Homo sapiens: one gene and its partners. The protein of the gene in region 1 interacts with the protein of each later gene in a pairwise test. Each region holds a gene or a part of one and is shown in the gene's direction. Other genes may lie near its edges. The genes, in order: ABL2, FBXO38 and ZMAT1.

What was found.
Region 2: the proteins of ABL2 (region 1) and FBXO38 interact in a two-hybrid assay, tested with the Homo sapiens proteins (one large-scale study listed by BioGRID and IntAct).
Region 3: the proteins of ABL2 (region 1) and ZMAT1 interact in a two-hybrid assay, tested with the Homo sapiens proteins (one large-scale study listed by BioGRID).

What each region holds. Positions count from the first base shown.
Region 1 is NC_000001.11:179,114,641-179,118,296, reverse strand, and holds part of ABL2 (tyrosine-protein kinase ABL2), read left to right. Parts: intron 1-780; coding exon 781-965; intron 966-3,266; coding exon 3,267-3,419; intron 3,420-3,656. UniProt on the Homo sapiens protein: Non-receptor tyrosine-protein kinase that plays an ABL1-overlapping role in key processes linked to cell growth and survival such as cytoskeleton remodeling in response to extracellular stimuli, cell motility and adhesion and receptor endocytosis.
Region 2 is NC_000005.10:148,435,828-148,439,483, forward strand, and holds part of FBXO38 (F-box only protein 38), read left to right. Parts: intron 1-2,504; coding exon 2,505-2,671; intron 2,672-3,656. UniProt on the Homo sapiens protein: Substrate recognition component of a SCF (SKP1-CUL1-F-box protein) E3 ubiquitin-protein ligase complex which mediates the ubiquitination and subsequent proteasomal degradation of PDCD1/PD-1, thereby regulating T-cells-mediated immunity.
Region 3 is NC_000023.11:101,921,952-101,925,607, reverse strand, and holds part of ZMAT1 (zinc finger matrin-type protein 1), read left to right. Parts: intron 1-3,656.

The sequences.
Region 1 (3,656 bases):
AAGTGATCTTCCCATCTTAGCCTTCCAAAGTGCTGGGATTATAGGTGTGAGCCACCATGCCTGGCCAGAGAGCTCTCTTTATTTTGCCAGCACTGTATCCAAGATCCTTTTTCACCATCTAGTGGCTTTTTTTTTTTTTCCTTCTTGAGACAGGCTGGCTCCATCGCCCAGGCTGGAATGCAGTGATGCGATCTTAGCTTACTGCACCCTCAGCCTCCTGGGCTCAAGCCATCCTCCCACCTCAGCCTCCTGAGTAGCTGGGATTACGGGAATATGCCACCATGCCCGGCTAAGTGTTTTTTTATGGTTTTTTTTTGTTTGTTTTGTTTTTTGTTTTTTTTTTGTAGACTGGGTTTCGCCATGTTGCCCCGGCTGGTCCTGAACTCTTGAGCTCAGGAGATACACCCACCTTGGCCTCCCAAAGTGCTAGGATTACAGGCGTGAGCCACCACACCTGGCCTAGTGGCTGAATTTTTAAAATAGTTTTCTGCATTAGTAAATAACTTAGTCTTGTAGAAAAGCATCTATTGCTCACCTATCCCAGTGTACTTATAAATAGGGACCCATTTTATAAAGCCTGCTTTATTCCGCATCTTGATGAGTGCTCTACAGTGACATATCATTAGTGGCTTTCTAAGGTGTTAGTGATTATCAGAAGATACTACCATATTTGTCAGCACTTACTTAACTCTGCCTATAACACAAAACCAAGAATAGAGTGTTCATGACCATTTTCCTCACCATCTGAATGGAATCACATTAGGGTTCTCTTTCCCACAGAGATCTTGCAGCTCGTAACTGCCTAGTGGGAGAAAACCATGTGGTAAAAGTGGCTGACTTTGGCTTAAGTAGATTGATGACTGGAGACACTTATACTGCTCATGCTGGAGCCAAATTTCCTATTAAGTGGACAGCACCAGAGAGTCTTGCCTACAATACCTTCTCAATTAAATCTGACGTCTGGGGTAAGGTTGAAAGGGACTTTTTTCTGTGTCATTTTATTTTTTTTTTTATAAATGCCTTGATTCTTTAGAGCTTCTCTTACGATGTTCAGTATCCTCTACCTTTACCTGCCATTCTTCTTCAGTTATTCAGCAAGCATTTGTTAAATACCTCCTATCTGCCAGGACTGTGTTAAGAACTTTGCATAAACAGAAGTATAGGCCTGGTGTGGTGGCTCACGTTTGTAATTACAGCACTTTGGGCCGAGATGGGTGGATCACTTGAGGTCAAGAGTTCGAGACCAGCCTGGCCAACATGGTGAACTCCCATCTCTACTAACTACAAAAATTAGCCAGGCGTGGTGGCATGCGCCAGTAATCCCAGCTATTCAAGAGGCTGAAGGCTGAGGCAGGGGAGTTGCTTGAGCCTGGAGGGCAGAGGTTGCAGTGAGCCAAGATGGCGCCACTGCACTCCAGCCTGGGCAATAGAGCGAGACTCTGTCTAAAAAGAAAAAAAAAAAAAAAAGTATAAAGAAGAAAGTTTAGGGCCAGGCACAGTGGCTCATGCCTGTAATCCCAGCACTTTGGGAGGCCGAGGCAGGTGGACAACCTGAGGTCAGGAGTTTGAGACCAGCCTGACCAACATGGAAAAACCCTGTGTCTACTAAAAATACAAAATTAGCTGGGTGTGGTGATGCATGCCTGTAATCCCAGCTACTTGGGAGGCTGAGGTAGGAGAATCACTTGAACCCGGGAGGTGGAGGTTGCGGTGAGCTGAGATCACACCATTGTACTCCAGCCTGGGCAACAAGAACAAAACTCTGTCTCAAACAAAAAAAAAAAAGAAAGAAGAAAGTTTTAAAAAAGAAGTCCCTGCCTTCAGAGAGCTCACAGTCTAGATCTCTTATTGCATTGGAGTGCTAATGATCCTCCCTCTGTAAAGCATCCTATTTCCACATTAGGTTTTTTGTTTTTATTTTTGAGACAGAGCCTTGCTCTGTTGTCCAGGCTGGAGTGCAGTGGCACAATCTCAGCTCACTGCAACCTCCCATCTCCCGGGTTCAAGCGATTCTCCTGCCTCAGCCTCCAGAGTTGCTGGGACTACAGGCATGCATCACCATGCCCGGCTAATTTTTGTCATAGTAGTAGAGATGAGGTTTTGCCATGTTGGCCAGGCTGGTCTCGAACTCCTGACCTCAAATGATCCACCTGCCTTGGCCTCCCAAAGTGTTGGGATTACAGGCATGAGCCACTGTGCTCAGCCTCACATTAGGTTTTATCACTCATTTGCAGAGTACTGTGACACAGAGCTTTTTTTTTTTTCGAGGGAAGTGTGATGAGGTTTCCTCTAGAATTTGTCCTAATTGATCTGGTTTCTACTGCTCTGAGAGGTAATATGATTTGGTTGAAGCTTAGTAGACTGAACAATCTGGAAATTTGGATTGTGGACCAATAGAAATAGTCATAGGATTCTAAGTCATTTTTTACTGGAAATCTCAAACTCAAATAACTGAGACAAAATCAAACAAATTTTTTTCTGCTCTGAATTTTATCTGATTTTAAATGAATCCATTTTTATTTTACTCCTCTTGTATTAGCTGACTTTAAAACTGTTATGCTTCTTAGATACAGTGGTTCTCCTTTATCCTCAGGAGAATACATTCTAAGACCCCCCCCTTGGATGCCTGAAACCAAGGATAGTGTCAAGCCCTGGATATATAATCTTTTTTTGATCTGATAACCGAGAGGTCTTCTCAGTGACTAAGGGGTGGGTAGCATCTACGGTGTGGATATGTTGAGTAAAAGGATGATTTATGTGCGAGGCGGGAAGGAGAAGCATGGCTTGAGAGTTCATCATGCAACTCAAGGCAGCATGCAATTTAAAACTTTAGAATTGTTTATTTCTGGAATTTTCTATTTAATATTTTTGGACCTTGGTTGACTGTGAGTAGCTGAAACTGTGGGAAGTGAAACCATGGATAAGGGGTGACTACTGTATATCAAAAACTTTTCTAAGAATAGTTGGATTATGCCTCAGACTTCTTAAATGGTCATAGTTTATTTTCCCTCATTACAGTAAAGGAAATCTAAATAAAAATTGGGAAATTTAAATAAAACTGTCTTGAGATTATCTGCAGCATTCCTGTTGCAAATATTTTAGAAGGACAAATCATGCTGTAAGAATTGATAAAAGAGTATATTATATATTAATGTTGTTGTAACAGTGTGTGAATGTTACCTAAAATATGAAAGAGAATCACCTAATTATGTAAAATAAATAATCGGAGAAGAAACACTAAGTGCTTTTTTTAATTCCTTATGCAGCTTTTGGGGTATTGTTGTGGGAAATTGCTACCTATGGAATGTCACCATATCCAGGTATTGACCTGTCTCAGGTCTATGACCTACTAGAAAAAGGATATCGAATGGAACAGCCTGAGGGATGCCCCCCTAAGGTTTATGAACTTATGAGAGCATGTGAGTATTTTTGCATGTTTTAATTTTGAAGGCATAAGCTAGCAGTTCAGAATAGTTAACAAAATTAGAAACATTTCTCCTCTCAGTGTTGTTAGATTGAATCCAGCCTCATGACATTTAAAGAGTTTATCATTGATCAGCCAGTTGTCATATCATATACCATTGAATCTTATTGGAATCCTAAGCATAGTTGTTATGGCCCAAATATTGACCCAGTTTCTCAGAGACATTTGCATA
Region 2 (3,656 bases), on another chromosome or scaffold:
TAGAGGCCATTGTAGTGTTATTAATTGGCCTAATTTCGACATCATTGTATCTCAGGGAGTAGGGAGACCTGAGGAAAGGGAGAGAGACAGGGGAACAGCCTGTTGGGAGAGCAGTCAGGACACACACAACATTTATTAAGTTCACTTATATTGGTGCAGTTTGTGGCACCCCACAATTAAAACAGTAACATCAGAGATCATTGATCATAGACCACCATAATGGATAAAATAATAATGAAAAAGTTTGAAATACTGCAAGAATTATTAAAGTGTAACCCAAAGACTCAAAGGGAGCACGTGCTTACTAAAAAAATGGCACCAGTAGATGCTCAATTCATGGTTGCCACAGACCTTGTGTAAACAGTGTAATGTCTGCGAAGCACAATAAAGTGCAATAAAATGAGAAATGCCTGTATATGTATATATATACATGACATATGCACACACCCACACACACAGTACAGGGTCTGACCTCTAGTAATGCCTAGTGATGTTAATTTGTATTATGTTAGTGCACGTTGAGCATCTCTAATCTAAAAATCAGAAAGCCCAAGTGCTTAAAAATTCAAAACTTTCTGAGCACTAACATGATGCTCAAAGGAAATATTCATTGGAGCAGCATTTCAGATTTCAGATTTTTTTGATTAGGGTAAGTATATAATGCAAATACTCCAAAATTTGAAGAAAAATCTGAAATCTAAAACACTTCTGGTCCCAAGCATTTCAGATAAAGGTTCGTCAACCTGTATTGCCAAAAAATATTGAGGTCTATTTTGTTTTATATCTCCTACCATATTAGTAGTAAACAAAGAAATCCCATTAAAAGGTATTTACCAAACATATTGTCATAAACTGAGGAGAACCCAAGAAAGGAGAGATGAAACTGAGATTCAAGCACTACTTCTCCTCTGAATTCTACAAAAGTTCAGACCTTGGGGACCCCAGACTCTATTGTTTACTCTGAAGTAGTAGTACTTTTCTCTATCCCAGCCAATGTGGTCTTTGGTCCTAAAACATCTTAAATTACTATCTCCTATTGGAGTTTCCTTTTACAGTGGAGAACACAGGCTCTTCAAAAGCTCAGAGATTGTAACAGTAGGGGTACTCACCCTAGCCTTACAGTAGCACTGGAAGAACTTTCATTCTGTCAGTACCTACACCCTTTGAGCTCTGAGAATGTAAAACTCAATCTTCAGACTCTGCCAGTCGGCATCTCGTTCCATTCCTTTCTCTACTCTGAGCTCTCCGAGAATCTGACTAGTTTTCTTCTTTTTACTTTGATGATTTCTCCTGTACCTTCTCTAACCTAATGATGGATCACACGGCCTCAGGCCCAACCTTCTCCCCTTTAAACCAAATTGTTTGGCTCAGCTTATCGTGGTGAGAGGATCTTAGCTTAGTCTGTAGGTAGTGGCTAAGTTAATGACAGCGGAGATGATTAAATGAGATTAGAACTGACCTTAGTCATGTCGGATTTTATAGCTAAGAACCACTGGATCCTTACTGTCATCTAGCGCTCTCCTTTCCTCTGTTGCTGTCCTCAACAACAGTTCCCCTTCTTTCCACCAAGTCACAAAAGGAGAAAATGAACGTGAGAGGCGGGAGTCTCTCTCAGTGTTTAAATGTCAAGTTAGTTACATTAGATTGCACAAGACGATGATGACATTTGGGTCAAGGATGTTACAGATGTCTGTGAAATGTTAAGATCAGACAAATGAGCCTGTGGTTTTATAATCTTTTCCATTTGATCTCTCTCAAGTTGGACCTGGTTGAAATCTGCAGTGAAAATTGGACCAGGTTGAAATTGGAGATTAAAAAAAGAGAAGGAAATATTTTTCTGAAGTTGATATACTAGTTCAGTTAAATGTGTTTATTATATCAAAATTACTTTTTTCTGACTTCATGTTTTATATGTCAAACAGAAAAACTAATCATGTTTTAGATGAGCATTTCAATAGAACTTTAATGTTCTGTGTCTACACTGTTCAGTATTATGGTAACCACTAACCACATGGCTACTAGATTGGACTGAATAGCTTTAGACCAAAGTATCCAAATGTGTTTCTGGGTCTTTTTTTTCAAGGTTCTACTTTTACGTTTGTGACAGGAATTAAAATCCAACTCTGCTCATTCCTGAGAGTGAATGTAAGGTAACATAGGTGAATTATTTCAGGTCTGACTATTGACTATAAAAATGTATAATAGTTACTCATTTTTTAAATAAATATTTCCTAAACAGTTTCTGTCTGGGCAAGTCATTTTCTGAGACTTGGTTTTCTTAACAGTAAAATCTTAGAAAAAGGCACTTTAATGCCCCTTCTACCTTCTTTTGAATTGAACAGAACCACATTTTCAAATTTTTTTGTTAACTGTGATTTGTACTCTATGATATTATTTGACCTCTGTTAAAGATGTTTGTTACTGCAGTATTTTGTGCCAACAAAAATTAGGCCATCTCTCCAAAGATGATATGTACGGAGCTTACCATTGTTTTCATTTTGTAGCTACCAGGTGCAGGGTACTAAAACATTTAAAGGTAGAAAATGCACCAATTGTAAACCGATTTGACTATGCACAGTGCAAGAAACTGAACATGGATCAGGTACTAGACCAGATACTAAGAATGCCACCCGAGAGAAACCGCATCATATACCTACGCCCAATGCAGCAGGTAACGAGCTTTGCTTCTTTCCGATGATACACATATTGTGGTGTTTTTCTTTTTCTTTTTCTTGTTAGTCTTTAGCCTTTTGGATTTGGCATTCATTCACTTGCCCAACCTACAGTAATGATATTTTAGTTTTTACAGGTTATGTATGATATAGGGAGTTGTTATTCAACAGGTTTTTATACTTATTAAAAGTTACCTGTGGTTTAAGAGCACAGTCTCTGGTTCAGACTGCCTGATTAAATTTCTGGCTGTCTGACCTGTAGCAGATTATTTGACTTCGATGTCTTAGTTTCTTCATCTGTAAAATTAGAATAATAATGATATACCCAGGATTATTGTGATATTTAATATATGTGAAACTCTAAAACATGTGCTAGTATATAGTAAGCCATCATATAACTACTGTTAGTGTCATTATCATTATTAAGAGTATATTGTATATAAGGTTCTGTGCTTAATGCCAAAAGAGGGTTTAAAGGAAATTTTAAATGCCTCTTTGTAATCAGTGTGTAAGCCTGGCCTCAAAAGAGTCAGTTCATCATATTGTCAAGTGTCTCAAAACTTAAAATATGCTGGGTGCAAATAAAAACACAACACATGATCCTTCCCTCAAGGAGTTTGCCTTCCCAAAAAGGAGACAAACACTTATGCCACGCAGATGGCCGAGTGAGATTTCATAACTAGAGATGGGGGAGGGTATGCCATGAGAAAAAAGCAATGTTATCAAAGGCTCCTAGAAGACAAGAAAATGCATTCTCTCTTAAAGACTGGGCAGCAGTCTCATTTGAATAGGGTATATGTTACTACACATTCACAGTTCTATAATGCAGTCAGTACTTAATAAAGGACATACACAGAAGTGGATTCTGAGTTGACTGACGTCATTTATCTCAATCAGGATTCTCTGGTTTAGTAGGCATTTAAATATAACAGTGAGATATAAATTGCCAAGTTCCCTAGACAGAAGAATTTGCAAAATTATTCC
Region 3 (3,656 bases), on another chromosome or scaffold:
ATTACACATTGTATTTCTGTACCTTTTAGGTGAAATAAAAAACGGTCCATAGTGGTTACATAATTTGCTGAAGGCTATATAGTTGTGGGTAAAGATGGGATTTGAATCTGTTTGACCAACTCAGAATCTTATTTATTTTTTTCCAACATCCCAGTACTGTAGGTCATAGTTTTTCTCCCCATTACAAATTATTATGAAAGATTTATTTTCTTAGGTCATGAAAACATTTCTTGTAAGAGGGAAATGAAGAGGTAAAACACTCTTATTTATAGAAAATTGGAGTTTATTCATTTCTCCCACCAAATGCTGAAGCCACACTTAAATGTAATCAAATACATTACTGGAATATATGAGCTCTCTGATCAGATCCCATTTATAATTTGTCACAAAACTACCATTTCATTTCAAATAACCATCATAAATGTTATTCAGAAGTGGATTGTTTATGTCATGGTAGCAAAACAACCATCACTTGCTCATGCAGTTTCCTCTGAGCAGCAGGTTGACTCTGCAGGGCAGCTGTCCTTCATGCAGTGATTCAGATGCTTTTATCTTTTATTTTTTTCAATATTTTATTTTATGTTTTATTGTAAAATATGCACACCATAAACTTTGCCATTTTAAGTGTGAAATTCAGTGGCATTAACTACATTTACATTGCCAAGCAAGCTTCACCACTGTCCATCTCCAGAACTTTTTCATCATCCCAAATTGAAACTCTGTACGTATAGGTCATAGTTTTGTTATATGACCATATTTCTCCACTCTGAAGAACTTTCTGATGTATTTATGGAAAGTAATATATATTTAAAAGTCATGCTTAATTTGTTAACAGTTGGCAACTTGAATAGTTTCTTATTACCACAAAGCACAGCATTGCAAAGCAATTTTACCCTCTTATACCCTGAGTATAAATGGGACCATCTAGTAAACATTGGTCTTATCTTTTCCACATCTTATTATTTTTAAACCCTTACTTCATTATCAGATATAGGTTATCTTCCCATTTTGAACCTAGGTTTTGATAGTACTTTCTTATTCCCCATTGCTTTTGTTTCATGTTAAAATGGAAATAAATGATATCAGCATCAGAAATTCCTGTATATTTTAAAGATGGTATATTCCACTTCATACTTGAGAGCATGCCTTTGTGTCATTAAGATCTCAATACCAAGTTTCACTAAAGTAGGCTCCTTGGCCGGGCACGGTGGCTCACGCCTGTAATCCCAGCACTTTGGGAGGCCGAGATGAGTGGATCACCTGTGGTCAAGAGTTCGAGACCAGCCTGGCCAACATGGTGAAACCCCATCTCTACTAAAATTACAAAAATTAGCCGGGCACAGTGGTACATGCCTGTAATCCTGGCTACTTGGGAGGCTGAGGCAGGAGAATCACTTGAACTCGGGAGGCAGAGGTTGCAGTGAGCCAAGATCTCACCACTGCACTCCAGCCTGGGCAGCAGAGTGAGACTTCATCTCAAAAAACAAAAAAAAACTTGCTCCTCTATCCTTATCTCTTTTCCAAGTTTATAGTAGCATAAAAAAATTCAAATGTACCAGGGAATGAAGAACAGTTGAAAAATTCTAGGCTAGAAATATTGAAAAAATATGCCTAAAATTAACCAGGAAGTATTTACCATACCATTTTCAAAGACATGTATTTTTTCCAGATGAGACTTGAAATCATACTTCACAATATTTAGTATGTTGTCATTTGATATTCTAATGTGTAATCTGTTTATATTTTTAACCCTAGCTCTCCTAATTTCTTTCTTAATTAGATTGAAAGATAAAAGACCATCTGCCATGAATTTTGTACATTTATCATTGGGGAAAACTCAACTGTTGTACCTAAATCATAACCAAAATACTAATTTTGCAGAAAAATTTCTTTTTAACTCTAGTTGCAATTATTAAAATATTACACTTGGTAATAGAAATGCCTCATAGATCTTTACAAAGAGATATTTTGGAGAGAACCAGCTTTAGGGTTAGGACATAGACAAGAAAATAAAGATAATGGAAGATTAAGAGAAGAAATATTGGGACCCTTTGATTTTTTAGGCCCTTAAAGGTTTGTGTTAACTGTATAGCTGCTTAAAACTTTAAATCATCTTCTGTGCTTCGTATTTGGAAGCAGCTAGGTGTTTGGGTCCTCTGTAAGTACCCCACCAAAATTTTGCTTCCGTATATATTCCAATCTAAAATATATTTTTTCATTGATCACCATCAACCCATATAAAGTCAGGTAGAAACAGAAATCTGAAAGGCTGTGATATGTTCTTAGTCACACAGCTAGTTAATAGCAGGGTGAAAACTAATGCAGTCTCTCTCATCCTAATGCTTTTTACAACTCTTACTATTGGAATTAAGAATCAGTATAAACCCACACTTAACAACCAACCAATAAAAATAGATTTATTTCATATTCTAATCAGTTAAGGAAGAGAAAAGACATGGTGAGAGTATAAAGAAGAGAAGAGAGGAAGATGCCCCCAAGTTTCTTCAGCTATCCCTTGGTTCCCATTTCTACTAGAATCAGCTCCTAAGTCCCAATTCTATGCCAGAACAGTTTTATTCCTGGCAGGTAGTGAGTTCTCAGTAAGCATTAGTTCCTGTCCCAGTCATCTTCCTCACAGTCAACATTATCTGCTCACCTATCCTCTAATTGAACATCTGCTCCCTGAGGCTGGCCTTTCCTCTAAGCTGTCACCCTGAAACAGGCTGAAAGACATCTGTATTGTCACCAGTTTCCTCTCGACTTCCAGAATTGGCTATTGGTCATTTTTTTCTGGGAGTCCAAAAATCATGTCTCAAATAGTGGGGGTTGGGGGTCGGGTGGATCGAAAGAAACATTTAGCATCTCTTGTGAATCAGACATATGTTTCTTACATATGTCAAGCCTGGAGATCAAGTCTCTTTTTAAGATTAGCCTTGCCTGTAATCCCAGCACTTTGGGAGGCCAAGGCAGGCGGATCACCTGAGGTCAGAAGTTTAAGACCAGCCTGGCCAACATAATGAAATCCCGTCTCTACTAAAAATACAAAAATTAGTCGGGCATGGTGGTGCACGCCTGTAGTCCAGCTACTTGGGAGGCTGAGGCAGAAGAATCACTTGAACCCCGGAGGCAGAGGTTGCAGTGAGCCAAGATCACACCACTGCACTCCAGCCTGGATGACATAGCAAGATTCCATCTCAGGAAAAAAAAAAAAAGGCCTAGCCTTTCTAAGAGTGAGCTCAGGGAAATCTTGGGCAGACTTAGATTTGAATCCTGGCTTTGACACTTATCAACTGTGTGACTTTGGGCAAACTGTTTAACCTCTCCAAGTCTTAGGTATGACTTTTAGAAAGTGGACATCATCAAATTCATGTCAAATTTAGAGGAAATGCAACCTGAGGAGAATGTGGCAGTGTACAGTAGCCTCTGGAAAACAACACCCATTTTATAAATTTGTTCTCAGTGGAAACCCCTCTTCCATGAGCCTCCTGGTGGCAGATTCTAGAAGATCCAAAAAGATCTTGAAAGCCTGGAAATGGTTGTTTGACTCTAAGAAGGTGAAACTTAAAATAAAAAATATAAGTATATATTAGATCTGTTTGGGATCCAATAGAATTTCTATCTAACTATGTCCTAGAGGGATATATTTTAACCAGTTC